Homo sapiens: one gene and its partners. The protein of the gene in region 3 purifies or fractionates together with the protein of the main gene of each other region. This does not show direct contact. Each region holds a gene or a part of one and is shown on either strand. Other genes may lie near its edges.

What was found.
Region 1: the proteins of PKNOX2 (region 3) and ALDH7A1 purify together in Homo sapiens (affinity purification with mass spectrometry; one large-scale study listed by BioGRID and IntAct). This does not show direct contact.
Region 2: the proteins of PKNOX2 (region 3) and GRIPAP1 purify together in Homo sapiens (affinity purification with mass spectrometry; one large-scale study listed by BioGRID and IntAct). This does not show direct contact.
Region 4: the proteins of PKNOX2 (region 3) and SLC26A6 purify together in Homo sapiens (affinity purification with mass spectrometry; one large-scale study listed by BioGRID and IntAct). This does not show direct contact.
Region 5: the proteins of PKNOX2 (region 3) and PBX3 purify together in Homo sapiens (affinity purification with mass spectrometry; one large-scale study listed by BioGRID and IntAct). This does not show direct contact.

The regions. Positions count from the first base shown.
Region 1 is NC_000005.10:126,585,196-126,588,903, forward strand, and holds part of ALDH7A1 (alpha-aminoadipic semialdehyde dehydrogenase isoform 1 precursor), read right to left. Parts: intron 1-3,708.
Region 2 is NC_000023.11:48,995,580-48,999,287, reverse strand, and holds part of GRIPAP1 (GRIP1-associated protein 1), read left to right. Parts: coding exon 1-50; intron 51-1,107; coding exon 1,108-1,134; intron 1,135-1,930; coding exon 1,931-2,038; intron 2,039-3,708. UniProt on the Homo sapiens protein: Regulates the endosomal recycling back to the neuronal plasma membrane, possibly by connecting early and late recycling endosomal domains and promoting segregation of recycling endosomes from early endosomal membranes.
Region 3 is NC_000011.10:125,395,135-125,398,842, reverse strand, and holds part of PKNOX2 (homeobox protein PKNOX2), read right to left. Parts: intron 2,869-3,708; exon of another isoform or gene 2,747-2,868; intron 970-2,746; coding exon 781-969; intron 1-780.
Region 4 is NC_000003.12:48,628,834-48,632,475, forward strand, and holds part of SLC26A6 (solute carrier family 26 member 6), read right to left. Parts: intron 3,564-3,642; coding exon 3,412-3,563; intron 3,260-3,411; coding exon of another isoform or gene 3,212-3,259; coding exon 3,047-3,211; intron 2,969-3,046; coding exon 2,816-2,968; intron 2,474-2,815; coding exon 2,391-2,473; intron 2,308-2,390; coding exon 2,160-2,307; intron 1,888-2,159; coding exon 1,774-1,887; intron 1,683-1,773; coding exon 1,605-1,682; intron 1,325-1,604; coding exon 1,229-1,324; intron 1,146-1,228; coding exon 1,039-1,145; intron 879-1,038; coding exon 809-878; intron 1-808. UniProt on the Homo sapiens protein: Apical membrane anion-exchanger with wide epithelial distribution that plays a role as a component of the pH buffering system for maintaining acid-base homeostasis.
Region 5 is NC_000009.12:125,911,204-125,914,911, reverse strand, and holds part of PBX3 (pre-B-cell leukemia transcription factor 3), read right to left. Parts: intron 1-3,708. UniProt on the Homo sapiens protein: Transcriptional activator that binds the sequence 5'-ATCAATCAA-3'.

The DNA of each region.
Region 1 (3,708 bases), on a different chromosome or scaffold from region 3:
GCTGAAGCAGGAGAATCACTTGAACCCCGGAGGGGGAGGTTGCAGGGAGCTGAGATCCCGCCATTGCACTCCGGCCTGGATGACAAGAGTGAAATTCTGTCTCAAAAAAAATAATAAAGTACAGGTAAAAGGAACATTCCCCTCCATGAAACCTTCCCCCAGGCAGAAGCCAATCACACCCTCCCCCTAACTCCCACTGCTCCTAATCACAGCACTGCTCACACTTGCCTCACAGAGCTTGGCTGTGAGCTCAAGGTTCTTCCTTGCTCTCTCTTCTCCCCAAGTGTATCACTGTCTCTTAGTACAGCTTCTCTGGATGGTCACTTTGCAATCTATTAACATTTAAAACATTCCTACCCTTTGTTTTATCTATTTATTTTTTGAGACGGGGTCTCGCTCTGTCACGCCCAGGCTTGAGTGCAGTGGCGCGATCTCGGCTCAGTGCAACCTCTGCCTCCTGGGTTCAAGTGATTCTCCTGCCTCAGCCTCCCAAGTAGCTGGCATTACAGGCGCCTGCCACCACGCCCGGCTAATTTTCTGTATTTTTAGCAGAGATGGGGTTTCACCATGTTGGTCAGGCTGGTCTCGAACTCCTGATCCCAGGTAATCCGCCTGCCTCGGCCTCCCAAAGTGCTGGGATTACAGGCATGACATTCCTACCCTTTAACTAAGCAGCTCTGCTTACAGAAACTGAGCTTATATACATAAGTATGCAAAAGTATAGGTACAATGATATTCATTGCAGTGCTGTTTCTAGTAAAGAAAAAAAGAAACCAACTGTCCATCAGCACATGATTGGTTAATTACGGAACAGTGATAAAATAAGGTCGATTTTTATGGGAAAACATTGAAAAGCTATAATAGAATAATACAAAACAAGAAAACACTTATGGTAAGTAAACTTTTGCTTAAATTTGGAGCAACATATACCAAGCTGTTCACAATGGTTTTTTGTGGGGAATGAAATTATAACAGATTTTCATCCACAATTTATATGTTTGCAATGTCTGTCATTTTCACAACATATGCACACTTTTGGAAACAGGAAACAAAAACCTGTAGCATTATATCAATCAGCACATAACCTATACATTTCCTAGCACATGGTGTGGGTTTAATGATGTTTCAATTGAATTTAGTCAGCACATTTATAAGCTTAGTTAAGTTGGTTAATTTCAACTCAGAATGGCCAGTATACATGGCCTTTTACCTCCCATTCTGGACACATTTTATTCAGTCAGTCTTTCAACAAATAATTATTGCATATGTTCTATGTGCCAGATACTGTGCTAATCCCTGGATATTCTACTGCAAATGAGGCAGTTACAATTCTTGCCCTCTATAGAGCTGACAGTCCATGGGGGTGATAAAGGCAAGAAACAGGCAATTACAATCTAATGTGGCAAATGCCATGAAAGGGGAGCTAGATTTCACAACTGGAGCAACCTGAAGTAGGCTTTTTACAAGTTTAGAAGTTTAGGGCTAAGACCTAAAGCATGCCAGGTGTTGTGAAGAGGTAGGCAAAGTGGAGGAAAAGCATGGGGTTAGAGGGGTACAGAGCATATGCAAAGGCTGAAAAGCAAGAGAAAGTGGTTTTGGAAAATTATGGCCGGGGGCTGTGGTTCCACGCCTGTATTCCCAGCACTTTGGGAGGCCGAGGCAGGTGGATCATTTGAGATCAGGAGTTCAAGACCAGCTTGGCCAACATGGTGAGACCCTGTCTCTACTAAAAATACAAAAATTAGCCACGCTTGGTACCTGTAATCCCAGCTACTCAGGAGATTGAGGCAGGAGAATCACTTGAACCCAGGAGGCAGAGGTTGCAGTGTGCCGAGATCGCACCACTGCACTCCAGCCTGGGTGACAGAGTAAGACTGTCTCAAAAAAAAGAAAAAAGAAAGAAAAAAAAAAACAGTTCCCTGTCTTCAAGAACAGAGAGACTCCTACTCTTTCTCACCAGAGATGGGAGGGAAAATGAGGACACATGGGGATGCAGACGGCAGAAATGGGCTACATTCTGTGCTGAAACTGGCTCATGGAAGAAAGCAGCAAGTCTATTCCTTAGAAAGAAATCAATTTCTATAAACTACCTTTCCATATGTTTCACTTTGTTTCCATTTTCCTTAAAGAAAAATGTTCCCTTTGAAAAATTCTAGAATTGGCCAGTCACAGTGGCTCATGCCTGTAATCCTAGCACTTTGGGAGGCCAAGGCGGGTGGATGGCTTGCGGTCAGGAATTCAAAACCAGCCTGGCCAACGTGGTGAAACCCCATCTCTGCTAAAAATATTTAAAAAATTGGTGGCGGGCACCTGTAATCCCAGCTACTTGGTAGGCTGAGGTAGGAGAATCGCTTGAACCGGGGAGGCAGGGCTTGCAGTGAGCCGAGATGGCACCATTGCACTCCAGCCTGGGCAACAAGAGCAAAACTCTGTCTCAAAAAAAAAAAGAAAAAGAAAAATTCTAGAATTAACTCAAATGAACTACATGAAACAGTGGTTTGTCCTAACACAGTCAAGGTCAGCCAAATGGATGAGGGCCAAGCAGAGAAGCCTCACGTGAGGGAGGATCGAGATGGGAAAGCTTCTGTGACGAGAAGGGGGTCAAGCTTTGGTCTGTTCTTACCGAGCCTCTCTAAGTCCCTGCCCCAGGGAGGAGCCCCAGAGCACAATTAGGAAAAACTCTGCCTCTTCCCTAAACCTTGAACTCAATTGCTTAACTCAAAATCAAACAAGTAGGATCCCCAGCTGACTCTACTATTACCCAGGAAAGCAACCTGTTCCCACGTAGCACCCCCATTCTATTTGTTGGGAGGTCTAAAAAGCACCAGAAGTATGAGAAAGGATGTTAGGTGCAGAGGCTGGCATGGTGGGTAAGAGTTGACTGCCAAATGAGATCCTGAATGTGAAAATAGCAACAAAAAAAGTACAGCCCAATATTTAAGAAAGATCATAATGTCAGCTGGCACTCCCTAGGGCAAAGATAGATTTAAAAACCAGTTCATTCCAGGTGTGGTGGCTCATGCCTGTACTTTGGGAGGCAGAGGTGGGCAGATCACTTGAGGTCAGGAGTTCAAGACCAACCTGGCCAACATGGTGAAACCCTGTTCTCTACTAAAAAATACAAAAAAAAAACATTAGCCGGGCATGGTGGCTCATGCCTGTAGTCCCGGCTACTCAGGAAGATGAGGCAGGAGAATCACTTGAGTCTAGGAGGCAGAGGTTGCAGTGAGCCAAGATCATGCCAGTGCACTCCAGCCTAGGCAAGAGCAAGACTCAGTCTCAGAATAAAAACCAGTTCAGGAAAAGACAAGACCCTGAATTCACATAAATTCTTTTTTTTTCAAATGTTTGTATTTACCCTAGATAAATAGACACATACAATAGACGTTTCTAGTCAAAAGACAACATGTTAAGTTGCACTAGCATTCAAAACAGGATATGCAAAGAGTGAACCCTCATGTAAATTGTGTACTTTAGTTTATAATAACACATGAACATTGGCTCATCAGTTGTAACAAAATATGACATACTAATGCAAAATGTTAATAACAGGGGAAATGGCCTATTACAGGCATGGTGGCTCATGCCTGTAATCCCAGCACTTTGGGAGGTTGAGGTGGGTAAATTGCGTGAGCCCAGGAGTCTGAGACCAGCCTAGGCAACAGAGCAAAACCTCATCTCTACAAAAAATACAAAAATTAGCCAGGT
Region 2 (3,708 bases), on a different chromosome or scaffold from region 3:
TTCGACAGAAGGTCGCCTACTTGGATAAGGAGTTCAGCAAAGCTCAGAAGGTACCTCCCTCCACCCACCCATCCACCTACCCATCCACCCTTGCTTCTACCTATCTGACTCATTCATCCCTCCAGTGAGCACCTACAGTGAACCAGACCTAATGTTGCATGCTGTTTTCACGTAGTCATTTAAAGGATTCTCAATGGAATTCTCTTTAGTTGCTAATTTTACCTAATCCTGCTTAATTTAGTGATTAATTTTAATTTACTTTTAATTCATTTCTAATTTCAGTTACTCATTCTCATTCACTGACTTTTAATTAAATATTCAAATCTATCAGTAAATCTACCTCGAATCTGCCTCCCATCCTCTACTCACACTCCTGCCTTGTGCTCCTACTTCCCATCTCTGTCCTGGTCCAGTTGGGAAAATGAGAGCAAACCCACCTCTCAGATCCTCTAAAGATGAGATAGGATATAACCTATTGTGGCCCCTCAAGACATTCGAGGTGCTCCTTTGTCACTGCTCTGTCCCCATATCTAGCCATACCTAGCACAATGTTAATACATAATATGTGCTCAATAAATATTTGTTGGATGAACGAATACAGTATGCAGAAAATCCGACAGTCAGGAAGCTGCACTTCTCTTTGGTAGGATGCTGATTCCCCTAAGCTGGCAATGCTCTTGGCTGCCCAGTAGGGGAGCGACAGTTTCCACACTGCGTGGGAGGGACCCACAGAGACATGTATGGACAGATGTAGCAATGAAGCCACAGTTTCTGAGTCTGGAGATCCAGCCCATAAATGGTTAAATACCAGGGCATCTCCCTACCTCCCCTGTCCCCCCACCAGCCTCAAGAGCTTCCAAGAAAGGATGATTTATGTGTGCTGGGGCCCCAGGGCAAGACTTGCATTCATTCACTCACTCACACACTCATTCCATCATTCCTTTGGGCTCCAAATTGTCACACATGTTCTGTGGTTGAAGATGCTCCCATCCTGCAACCCCTGTCATCCTTGTCCTCCCAAAACGCTTGGCACAATTGTCTCCATATCCTAGTAAGGCAGTCCATCTCTGTTCACTTTAGCTCTCTTCCCACCCACCCCCACTTTAGGCACTGAGCAAGAGCAAGAAAGCTCAGGTAAGGGGATCCCTTGTGGGTGAGTGTGACTGGGAGATGTCTTGGTGGGCTATTTCTGTATGCTGATATTTCCTTGTACTGGCCTTTCTTTCTTTGTGTGCCTTTACATCTGCTACTACCTCACTGCCATGTGTTGCTGTATCTGTCCTTGTTTCCCTGTATTTGTCCTAACTCTGTGTCTCTTTCCTTCTCTCTCTTTCCATTCTTTTCTCTGAGTCTCTTTCTGTCTCTGTCTGTTTTCCTGTTCCTGTCTCTCTGACTCATTTCTCTTCCCAATCTTCTCTTTGTCTCTCCCCCTCCTGTTCCTGTCTCGGTGATTTCTCTTTTTTCTGCTTTCTCTCTCTAACTCCTTGTTTCTTCCACCCCATTCCTCTCTCTTCCTAACTCATTTCTTTTCCTGACCCCTCCTCTTCTCCCTGTTCTGTTCTCTCCCTGTTGATTTCTGTTTGTTCTTCTCTCCGTCTTTTTCACTCTCTCCCTCCCAATCCCTCTCCCCTTTTCTATCTCTCCCCCTTTCCCCATCTCTACTTCCTCTCTCCCCAATCATTATCTTCCTGTCTTTTCCTCCGCTCTCTTCCTCCCTGTATTCCCTTCTCTCTACCTTCCCATGTCTTTATCTTCCTTTCCCTGTCTCTCATTTTATCCCTCCCCATGTCTCTTTCTCCTATATCACCTCATTCTCTGTACCCTATGTCCTCTCCCACCCATGTCATTTTCTCCCTCTCTCTGTTTCTTTGCCCTACCTCCCTATCCTTTTTGCCCTTGCTGGAGTCCTGGCCCTTGTCTGCCACTGCAGGAAGTCGAGGTATTGCTGAGTGAAAATGAGATGCTGCAGGCAAAGCTGCACAGCCAGGAGGAGGACTTCCGTTTGCAGAACAGCACACTAATGGCCGAGTTCAGCAAGGTGCTGGTGCCTGGGATAGTCAAAGGGGAAATGAGGGGTAGGGGTCATCTGGGCTGAAACCTAACAGCGGCAGAGAGTGATTGGACAGGGTCTGGCCCTGGAGCACTGTCCGTGGTGCTGAAACAGGTCCTGGATTGCTGCTGGGGGGCAGTAATTTGACAGATGGGGCCGCTCACTCTGCTGGGATTAGAAGGCTTTGAGCCCTGAGGTCACCTGGTTCCTGGCCAAGTCACTCCTTTTATTTGAGCTTCAAGTCTCCATGTGTATAATGTGGGGTTGATGCTGTGGTGCTCCAAGGTGTTGGGGGGTTTTAGGCAGAGTTCTTATGCTTAATATAGGATGGAAAAGTGTTCGAGCTTCTTCCCTTTTCTCTTTCTTCTCTTCATCTGACATGAGCCTGGGGTTCTACCTCTTCCAGATAATTCATCCTGGAGCTACTAATTCTATCTCCCCATTGATTTTAGTGTCCTGTCTGTTTCTAAATCTACTGGGCAGTTGGAGACATTGTCTTTTGTTCCCTCATCTATCTTCTGTATCCACAGTTGATAATTGTCTATGTTTTTAGTGTGTTTTAAGGAAAAAAGTCTCATGGCAGCAAATTTTTTTGAGATGGAGTTTCACTCTCATTGTCCAGGCTGGAGTGCAATGGCATGATCTCAGCTCACTGCAACCTCTGCCTCCTGGGTTCAAGCGATTCTCCTGCCTCAGCCTCCCAAGTAGCTGGAAGTACAGGCATATGCCACCATGCCTGGCTAACTTTGTATTTTTAGTAGAGATGAGAGAAAATGACATGGGTGGGAGAGGACATTTAGTAGAGAAAATGACCATGTTGGTCAGGCTGGTCCTGAACTCCCGACTTCAGGTGATCCACCCGTCTTGGCCTCCCAAAGTGTTGGGATTAAAGGCGTGAGCCACCGCGCCCGGCCCAAAAATGGTATTTCTAAGGCTCCATCTGAGAATATAGTGCCTATGACCTTAAAAAAACAAAACCGAAAATAACCTTTAAGCAGGTACAATACCAGGAGAGGCAGTTGAGCAAGTAGTAGGTACCAGCAGGGACTCTGGAACCAGAAGGCCTAGATTAAAATCTTGGCTCTACCTTTTACTAACTGTAACCTTGAGGAAGTTACTTAACTTGCCTGGTTCTTGGTTCCCAAATGTTTAAAATGGAAGTCATGATAATAACAGTACCTGCCTCTTCACAGGGCTTTTGTGAGGATTAAATGAATAAATGTACGTAAATCACTTAAAACAGAGCCTTGCACATAGTATCAGCTATGGAAGCATTAGTTATAATATTATCCTTCTATTAACTCATCTTCCCTCTAAAATATTTGACTTTTTAAAAGTTTTATGGCCGGGCGTGGTGGCTCAGGCCTGTAATCCCAGCACTTTGGGAGGCCAAGGCAGGCAGATCATGAGGTCAGGAGATGGAGACCATCCTGGCTAACGTGGTAAAACCCCGTCTCTACTAAAAATACAAAAAATTAGCCGGGTGTGGTGGCACGTGCCTGTAGTCCCAGCTACTCGGGAGGCTGAGGCAGGAGAATCGCTTGAACCCGGGAGGCGGAGGTTGTAGTGAGCCAAGATTGCACCACTGCACTCCAGCCTGGGCGACAGAGCAAGACTCTGTCTCAATTTAAAAAAAAAAAGTTTTATATCCACCCTGT
Region 3 (3,708 bases):
CAGGAGCTCAGTGGAAGGGGAACAAAGTCTCAAGCCTGTGGCTTATGCAGATGTCTGTGAGTTGGGCGGGAAGGTATTGCCAGGCAGCTTTCTCGGTTTGTAGGTTTGGGGAAAATATCCTGCCCTGGAGGGGAAACCCCATCTTGCCCAAAGCGTGTAGTCAGCATTTCTGCATTTCCCAGGTCTCAGGAAGGAGGTGGCAGGGGAACCTGGGAACAGGGTGGTTTGAGGTGACCTTGACCATGGCCCTGAACCTTAGGGGGACAGAGATGCCAGAGTAGCGTGAGTGCCTGGAGAATGATTAGGGAGCAGCAGGCCCATGGGAAGCTGGCTTCACCCATTAGGTGGGCAGGATTCAGGGAATGACTGCTTTCCCCAAATGCCCTTTCCCAGAAATGCAGATGGCTCAGCAAGCCGCAGCCTCTTAAGAAGCCTGTCCCAGCTCATCCTCCAGGAGAGCTTTCCTTCTCCTTAGCTCTGGTGCTCATTCTGGGGGATACCTTGGGCCAGGAAGCCAGGAATGATTTTGGACATTGTCCCTCTCCGATCTGGTCATTTTCAAGGGAATACTAATGCCCTGGCAGGGCAGACTGTGTGTAAAAAAGGGATGGGATGGCCTAATGGATATGAAGAAGAGTGCATCAGAGGAGGGCCCTCATGGCAAAGGAACCCAGTGGGTCTAACCCAGTGAAGGTCACCAGGGGACCTTCCTCCACGCGTGGCTCCAGAGCTGGGCTTAGGAGCCTGGCTTAAGAGATGGGACCCAGCTCTGGGTGTTACCTGTGAGTGAAGGTTGATGGAGGGCTGGTTGGGGGAGTAGGGCCCCCCTAGATCATTCCTGAGCAGGTTGTCGCTGTGCATCTTGGTTTTGAGGCAGGTGATGTAACGGTTACAAAAGTCCTTGCAGAGTTCATTGACTTTCTCCAGCTCCAGCAGGTGGATTCTCAGGACCTGGATTGCCTTCACCATCTGTGGAGAGGGAGGAGAGGTGAGCCCAGGTGTTTGCATCCCATTTCCCTCACTGCCTGGACCCCCAGCCCCCACCACCCCAGGGGAGGGGAGCCCACCCCCTGCCGTAGCTCATGCTTCCTACACTTGATCTTGGCCAAAAGGCCCAGAAGTGGTAGGCGGTGCCTTCTCATCCCCATGACTTCAGTTCTAATGATGGCTCTCTGCTAATTATTCCTTTGCTCTGAGCCCTCTGTTATCACAGCTGTTCTTGAGGCAGTTGTGGTATTCTGAGAACAGCATTGGCCTTAGCGATGGGAGGCCAGGTCCAAGCCCCCGGCCTGTCATTTACTATCTGTGTGAGCTTGGGCAAGTTGCTCAAGCTCTCTGTGCCTTAGTGGCTAACAAATGGGGATAATTAGATTCTCCCTGACAACTTTACAGGTTTGTTGTGAGTATTGTATGAGGGCGTATACATGGTAGCACATTGTGAGGTGTGAAGGACCAGGCAAGCCTGAGGAAGATGGAGATCAGAATTTCTTATAAGTGCCTCTAGAGCTCAGGGACTGTCTATTCTTAAACAAGCATTCTGAGTGCCTCATGGGATACCGGTTACCTTGTGGACGCTCTGTGGATACTTGCTGATGGACTGAATAATCCAGCATGACTTAGCTGGGCACCAGCTACCTCACTGTCTGCTGTGGCCTTTTCCATGCCCTTTGGATTGCTGTACGGGAGCCTGCTGCCTCTTCAAATGGACATTCCTAACCTTTTCGTGGCAAGAAGCTATTTTGCAATTGAAGCTTTGCTCTTTACTGCTGTTATTATCATAAAAAGAAAATACTATGGAAGGTATGGAAAGCAGGGTGAAAAAAACCTGTCTTCGATCCAATCGCCTTAAAGAATGATTTTTTCCTACACCCATATATTTTAACATAGTTTCAATAACCTTGTGCATGCAATTTTGTTTTCTGTTTTTTCCCTCTAGTTTAGCAAATCTATTTTTCTAAGTGCCAGAATTGTTTTCTCTATCCTCTCTTCTAGACTATGAGCTTTGAGAAGGCAGGGATGATGTCTAATTTGCTCACCATGTTATCTTCAGCACGAACACATATGGATATGGAGTAAACATTTGCTGAATGGGTGAAAGTTATTGAGTAAACATATTTTTAAATGTTGCATATTATTTCATGTGTGTGCCATACTTAACCAGTCTCCTATTGTTAGGTATTTAGATTACTTCCAATTTTTCAATTTTATAAAAAATGTTACAGTGAATATTTTCTAAGCTTATAGCTTTTTTTTTTTTTTTTTAAAAGTTTCTGCATTATTCTTTAGGATGAATTCCCAGAAGTGACAGGAAAAAAAGCTATGAACGTTCTTGTGGATTATGATAAATATTGCCAAATTGCTTTTCAACAGGGGGTTGTTCAAATGGTGCTAGAATAATTAGACATCCACATGCAAAAAAACTGAATCTTGATTTAAACCTCATACCTTAGATGAGATTAACTCAAAATGGATCAAAGACATAAATGTAAGACAGAAAACTATAAACCTCTTAAAAAAAAACAGGAAAAAATCTTCAGGATCTAGGGTGAGGCAAAGAGATCTTAGAGTTGACACCAAAAGCATGATCCAGGCTGGGCACAGTGGCTCACGCCTGTAATCCCAGCACTTTGGGACATCGAGGCAGGAGGATCACTTGAGGTCAGGAGTTTGAGACCAGCCTGGCCAACATGGTGAAACCCCATATCTACTAAAATTACAAAAATTAGCCAGTGGTGGTTGTGCATGCCTGAAGTCCCAGCTACTTGGGAGGCTGAGGCAGGAGAATCGCTTGAACCCAGGAGGTGGACGTTACAGTGAGCCGAGATGGAGCCACTGCACTCCAGCTTGGGCGACAGAGCGCAACTCCATCTAAAAAAAAAAAAAAAAAAAGATGATCCAGTGAGGAACTGGACGCTGTCAAAATTAAAAATGTTTACTCTTCAAAAGACCCTGTGAAGAAGAGGAAAAGACTACATACTGGAGGAGAATATTTGCAAACCAAGTACCTGACAAAGGACTTGTATCTAGGATATATAAAGAACTCTCAAAACAAAACAGTAAAATAACAAGCAACCCAATTAGAACATGGTCATAAGACATGATTAGACATTTCACTGAAGAGGATATACAGATGGCAAATAAGCACAAGAGAAGATATTCAATGTCATTAGTCACTAGGGAAATGCAAATTAAAACCACAATGAGATATCACTACACACCTATTGGTATGGTTAAAATAAAAGAAATAAATATGACAACACCAAATGCTGGTGAGGAACTGGAGACTAGAACACTCAGACATTGCTGTTAAGAGTGTAAAATGGTACAGCCACTCTGGAAAACAGTATGACAATTTCTTACAAAACTAAATATGTGCGTACCATATGACCCAGCAATTGTACTCTTGGGCATTTATCCCAGAGAAATAAAAACATATGTTCTTACAAAAACCTGTATACAAATTGTTCAAAGCAGCTTTACTTCTAATAGTCAAAAATCGGAAACAACCCAAATGTACTTCAATGGGTGAATGGATAAAGAAACTGTAATTCATCCATATCATGGAATATAACTCAGCAATAAAAAAGAATGAGCTATTGATATGCCCAACAATGTGGATAGATTGCAAGGGAATTTTCCTGAGAGACAAAAGCCAGTCTCAAAGGATTATATACTATATGATGCCATTTACAAAACGTTTTTGAAATG
Region 4 (3,642 bases), on a different chromosome or scaffold from region 3:
AGGCTGCAGTCCAGGCCCTCCCAGGGGCTTAGGCCACAAGCCCGACGGTGTCATCCCCATCCCCCCACAGTGCCTCTCCCTCCCCACCTCTCCTGCCACCACCCAGGCAGGCTTCACAGGCTCTTAACCTTTCTCTTGGGTTTCCAACCCCTGCCTTGTGTTCTGTTTTCTGCACCCAGACAGAGGTCCTCCTAGGCTGTCATATCAATCAGACCTTCCCCGCTCCCACCCCATTCGGGTCACAGCCCGGGTCTCTGCTGGGCTCCAGGCATGCATGGTAAGGGCTGGGCTGCCCCCTCATCCTCTCCCATGTCTCAGACCCCTTAATTCCTCCCCGCACTGCCTAATTGCACTGTGCCCATGTTGCAGGCAACAGCCTTGTTTTATTCCAGAGCCCCCCACCTATGTTCCTAGCACTTGGCCCAAGACCTCTCAGGAGATAAATGGATGACTGAGGACTTAGTAACCCCACTGATCAGATCAGGAAATGCCTCCCTTCCAACCTGGCGCCCCAGGGAGCTGCCATTCCGGCTCTCTGACCCACGGCTGCTCTGCAGGTGGAGCTTGTGCTGTTGACTCCACGACAGACCCCTCCCCAGCCCCAGACCCATCTCTGTCCACTCTCCCTCTGTCCCTTCATACCTCTAGAGGGGGTCATAGACCTAAACTCCTCCCTTGAAATCCCAAAGACCAAAGCCAAAGTATCCTCAGCCCCCAGTTCCCTGGCCAAGTGTGGAACGAATCCACAAAGGCTCATTCTTCCTCCGTCTCCCCATCCACACCATCTCACTCAGCCCCTGACACTCACCTCTGAGTACTCTGCCACATCTCTGTAAATATCCGTGTCTGGCACCTGCCCCAGGACAGAGTAGTGGGGCCTGTGAAGGAGAGAGAGAATGCACGAAGAGGGGGCAGAAAAAGGGGATAACAGAGGGGTCCGAAGGAGCCTGAAGTCCCCAGAGATGTGGGGAAAGCTGCGGGGAGCCCTGTGGTACTCTCTCACTAGCTGGAATGAGGGGACCAACATGGCGGACTCACATCTGTGTCCGGACCACCACGAGCAGCAGGGAGAAGATGACCGCAACCACCAAGCCAAGGTCCAGGTTCAGCAAGATGGTGGCCGTGAAGGTCACCAGCCAGATAAGCTGAGAACAGAGGGCAGCGGTTGGAGGGCGGCGAGGAGCCATGGGGCTGCCCAGTCCCTGCCCTGGGCTCCCAGTGCACTCACCAGATCCGCCCGATTGGCCTTCCAGAGGGAGCGCATGTCGCTGAGCTGCCTCAGCATGCCCTTCAGGTTCACAATGATGATGGCTGCCAGGACCGCCTGGGGTGGGGACAGTGCCACCAGGGGCCATTGAGGGCACCCGATGCTGACAACCCTCCTCACCGAGGCAAAGCCAGACTAAGCCCAAGCACTCAGGCAGTACCCCAGACACAAACCCCCACCCAGCCCCTGACCCTTGTCTCCAAATCTCACCTTGAAGATCTCAGCCTTGAAAAACAGAACCTAACCTTGTGTCCCCACCCCTCGCCTGAACCTAGACTGGCTGATTTGAGAGCCCTGGCCTGGCCAAGACCTGAAACCTGGCTGGGTGGGGGCTCACCTTGGGCAGGTCATGGAAGAGTTCCCCAAGTTTGACAATGATGAGGAGGATGAAAAGGGAAGAGATGGCTCCAGCAACCTGTTCGGGGAGGGAGTGAGCAGGGGAGAGACCTCCTTCCCCAGGCAAAGCAATGTGCATGCCCACACCCATGCCCACACCCAAAGCCCACCTGCGAGTTGCCCCCGGTGCTCTCCTGTACCAGGCTCCGAGACATAGAGCAACTCACGGGGAAGCACTGGAAGATGCCTCCGATAAGGTTACTGAGGCCCAGGGCCACCAGCTCCTGACGGGGGACAGTACGGGTGTGAGAAGACTTCCTAGAAGTGGCTGGTCACTGTTCCACTGTATCTAGGCCTGTGCATCCCCAATCTCCATCCCCACCAAGTGGCCCCCAGAGACTGGATGCTGTCCCACACGTCCTGCTCTCCCACCCTCAGTCCCCCACGTGGCCTCAGCACATCTGCTGTCTCCCTGTGTCCCACCGGTTCCTCCCCCACCCGTTGCTGGCGCCTCCATACACTTGGATGCCTCCTACACATCCCGCATCACCCAGACCTGGTTGCTGTCCACCCGGTAGCCGTGCCTCAGGGCGAAGATCTTCCCCAGTGAGATGGCAATGGCAAACCCAACCACAGCGATGGTGAAGGCGCTGCCCACGAGCTTTGAGAACAGCTGGGTGTTGGGGGCCACTGGGGGCACCAGCCTGTGAGAGGTATCTGTGAGGCCAAAGCAAGGTCCTGTCCTGGCTGCCCAACCCTCCCTGACCTGATGGAGGCCAGAGCTCACCCTGCAGGGATGTTGCCCACGACATCTACCTCAAATCTGTGCTTTAGACCCATGCCATAGGAGATGCCTGTGGCCCCGATGAGCTGTGGGAGAGGACAGAGTCAGGGAGGCAGGTGCTGGCACCATGGTCAGGGGGACACATAAACCACTGTGAGGTGAGGAGGGAGATACTGGGCAAAACCTTCTTCGAGGGTGGGAAAAAGTCACGTAGGGTGAGAGACAGGCAACACCATTTCGGCTATGGGGAGATGCTGTCAGGGGCAGGAAGAAACCAACATAGGGGCTTTCTGCTGTGCCCCCCACAATACCCAAGAACCCTCCCAGCCCCCCTCCAGCTGGCCCTCAAATACAGGAGGCTGCCCACGTGGCAAGGACCCAGCCTGACCTGCCCTTCTCCCCTGCCCTCCACTCCCTGGCCCTCGAACCGTGAGCAGCTCCCCGGGTATCGGCATGGGCAGCTGCTGCTGCAGCTTGTCATTCAACAGCTTCACCACCACGAGCACCACCCCAGCCACAGCTGCAGTGACCACGGTGCCAACCTTGCTCTGGGGCAGCTTCCAGCAGACCTCCAGCACTGTCTGAGGAGAGGCCAGGTCACAGCTAGCACTCAAGGCCATGGGGCACACCTACCCCTCCCTCCCCCTACCCTCACTCACATAGATGAGGGACAGTGGCCCAGAGTGGCTGCTCAGATGGAGGCCAAACACATACTTGAGCTGTGAGACGAAGACCTGCACAGCTGCAGCTGTGGTATAGCCTCGGACAAGAGGTTCTGACAGGTAGGTGACCACGAAGCCGAAGTGGATCAGGCCCAGCCCCACCTGTGGGGCGGCCAGGGGCAGTCAGGAGAGGCAGGGGTCCTGGGGTTGCTAATGAGGAGCGCAGGGCAAGTGGGATGGGAGGGGGATGAGTAGACGGCAAGAGGAGGACGACGATGGTCAGACACTCAGGGGAGTACAGACAGGACAGTGGCGGGAGCAGAAGTGGTGGTGGGGGGCACATACTCCTGACTGTTCCACACCTGGAAGAGGCCAACCAGGACACTGAGTGTGGAGGCCACCTGTACCCGGGCAGCATCTCTGGCTGTCTCATTGATCATGGAGTCGTTCAAGGCCTGCGGGGCCAGGGATTCTGTCACACTGCCCACCATCACAGACATGACAGCAAAGGTCCCTGTAAGGACGGCACGGGGCAGGTCTGAAGAGGAGAGGACACTGCCCTGCCCTGGAGCCCTGGTCTTAAGAGAGAGGCC
Region 5 (3,708 bases), on a different chromosome or scaffold from region 3:
ATAGATCATAGCTGACAATTCATAGGTTTAATCAGGTCACACAGGCTTTCTGCCAAAATGTTTTCAACAACACAGAAGACAAAGTTTTAAAATAATTATCATGGTATAAAAAGCATTGGAGTCATGACAGCTCAAAATCAGCATTTTCATTAATGTGTAACATAATCTAAAACATCCCAGCCCAATTAACCTCTGTAAATCTGCTTCAAAGCAGGTTCCCTACACTAGTTACAAGGCTTCTTGGGGAAGAGGGGAAAAGGAAGTTGGCACCTTGCTTGTTTGTATTTGGATTCTCTTTTGAGTCTGTGCCTGTTGTTGTTTATCCACAGTGGTACACACTTTGTGTCTAGTGTAACTTACATGACATAACATCTATAAGCTGCCAAGTACTCAACTGATCACCAACTCTGATTTTATATGCTAACCTAAAGCTACCGTCAATTCTTTTAAGAACAGATTTCATTCCTAGATGCCCTGAATTACATCCATGGCATGACAGAGCTCTTGGTTGCCTTAACACAAATGCAAAACTTTAATTTCTTCCCCAAAACACTTTAAAGCTGTCACTTTCATTTAAAATTATACTTCAGAATAATTTCAACTGGATAATAAAACTAACTCACCATAATTTAAAATTTTATCTGTTGTCTATTCAGAGGCAAATAAGGTTTGAAAACTATAATATACTAAGACAATATATTCATTTAGGAGAGCAAAAAGATAACTCATAAAATGCGTACCAACACACTGCTGATAATTAAAAATAGGCAAACGTATTTGCTGTTTCTTCTATAACTAAAAGGGACTGCCTAATATTGTTCTAGAACTGCCATGTATTGGTTAAGTTTGCATTTTTAATTTAAATCTTTAATTTTCCTCTCTTTTAATTCACTGTGTTAAATGTTAAAAATCTCACGACCTGTACATGCTTGTAGTTCACATAGCAAGTTTTTTGTGCATTTGGCATGCAATGAGAGCTTACTGAGCAATCTCTTATGCTGCACTTTGAATTGTTTAATTTTTTATTCTTGTTTGAGGACTTCTCAAGTTTCTCCATTTTCAACTGAATTTTTGCCCACAGTTTTGTGTGTTTGTTGATTTTTGTATTTACATAGACACTGGTGCCTCTCCTGAAATGTGTTTTTTTAATCTACCTTCAAGTTTCCTCCGGGTTTCTAGTTTTCCCCTTGTAGTTAAACACATTAATCTTTTCCCTATGGACATGTGGTGAAGTACTTTAATAGCAGATTAACTTCCATACCCAAAATGATTACACTTCCCTGCACATGTACGGCAAACAAGAGAAGAAGCTCAATGACAAACATACAAGGAAGTACACCATAAGAGAGACAGAAGGAAATTCATTAGGAACAAATGCAAAAGGCACAAAACTAATTAGCCATCTATGATACTTTTATACATATGTATATAAATACGTATATAAACCATCATTATTGTACCAATAAGAAGCAATCCATAAGCTCAAAAGCCGTGGACACAAATAAAAACAATTATAAGTATACAGTATCAATTACTATAACGTTTTACTCTTATAATGAAAAAATATCTTATTTCTAAAATTATCAGTAAATCAACACTAAGTGCTTGCCTCAAGAACAGGAAAATATGTTTTAATGCAATCCTTTGTATTTACTTTATAAATTATGTGCATCAAATTTCATCAGAAAAATCATTTCCTGACGGAAAACTCATAGTTCTTTAGATGAAAAGTACTAAAGTACTTTGCAAATAGGCAACAAGAAGAAGACTATCAATAATAAAGGAATTTTCATAACTAGTCTGAAAAGTGAATCGGTTTCTTTTCTTTATTAAGCAAAGTAATGATTATGGGATCTTTAAATACTAATACCTGGTTTCCAAAATTACTTTCAATTTGAATATTTCTATTTATTTTCTTACTTAAAAACATTTAGTTACCATTTTATTCCTCATCCTACCTACCTAGCCACTCACTATTACTTAGTTTACTAACTTTCTAGAGTTACACTGGCTTTTAGTCATAATACCTACTCCTCTGGGCACCTATAAACATTTTAATGGGTCTAAATTTGCAAGGGCCAGAATGAATCAGACTGTGTGGTTATCAAAATATCTTGATATCTTCAAATTGAAACATGGTAAAACAATCATTTAAAATTTGATTGTACTTGTTTTTAATCCAAAATGTATGTATAATGAAACATACAGAGGTTTATAAAGGTTTACATCTAGGTTCTTTGGTCATCACAACATTATAAAGTTTAAAAAATAAACCCTATTTGCAATCTACTTATAATCACAACATTCATTTCCGTATCCCTAAGATTTAGACAAATCATACAAACACAGTAAAACATTGTTTAACAATGAACTTGGCTTTGTTATAAGCCTACAGTTTTTGCATATCTTTCAGCAAATCCTAATTAGCTGTCTTTCAACATGCTGTGCACCTGCCCCACAGATAATGGGAGAGAGCATCTGCATAGACGACTGCATTTGGAGGGCAATAAATAAATTACGGGTCAAAATTATTACAAAGCTTTCTCCGAATAAACGCATACCCTTCACAATTCTAAGCTGCAGATGTGAAAAGTACCTAAAGCCCACTCAAATGGTATGATTACGGGGCTGTTTGAGTTTAATAATCTGACTGTAATTCAGGCATTTTCAACAGCTCATTAAGGGTTCATTAATATATAGGCAAGCTTTTGAATTATAAATAAGCAGATTAGAAATCTGCATTGGCTAGATTGTACAGTAGGAGCCTTTCTAACAGAAGAACACTGTAACACAATGAAGGCTTGACCTGAGTGAATGAGGTGCAAACAACACAGTGCACTAACTAAGCTTTGTGGCTCCCTCATTTCAAGGACCAAGCCCACTGGACCATGACTAACCTCTGTTCATCCAGCACTGAAGAGTATGGCTTCAGACCATAGCTATTTCAAATATGTTCTACACGTGGTCCTGAATTAGACGTAACTAAGATCTAGCCCTACAATATTTCCATAATCAGGGAAGATAGATAATATCCATAATAATGATAAAAGTTGTCATCACATCACTTTTACTTAGTAAAGAGTACATTATTCAGACCTGCTGAGAAACAAAAAGCTATTATGGAAACTTGAGTTGTTTGATTTTTTTTTCTCCTAATGAGCATACCATAAATTTAGGCCCCAAATTATTCATAAGCTTAGGCCTACGACGTCGCTGTAATTTTGTTTTCTGATGGACTTGTTTTTTGATTCATTCAACTACCACACCACAGTCTTAGCTCAGAGAAAAATGTTTTAGCAGAGTGCCATGTAAAACAAGGCCAGATGAGATATTTTCAGCAGGCCCTGAATTCTTGACTGCTTTGAAATAAGCGACAATTTTAATATTAATGTTTTCTGTTATTCTTATAATTTTTCATAGCTTTTCTTTTGTGTCTGTTATTTTAAAGTAACATGCAGGATAGTGGTCAGAAGTCACAAAGCTAATTAGTAAAAATACCTACTTTATTTTCTGTGCTTTCTTCATTTAAAAATCAAGTCAGCCACAGTTTGAGAAGTGTAACCCAAACTATAGATGAAGAAGAAAGATTAAGACAGACGTGTTGCTACTTTTCTCCCCAAACATAAAAAAGGTAAAATAATTTTCTATCTGAAATCCTTAAGTAAGATGCAGTCAAAATAGGAGGCAGGACATCTGGAAATGAAATGA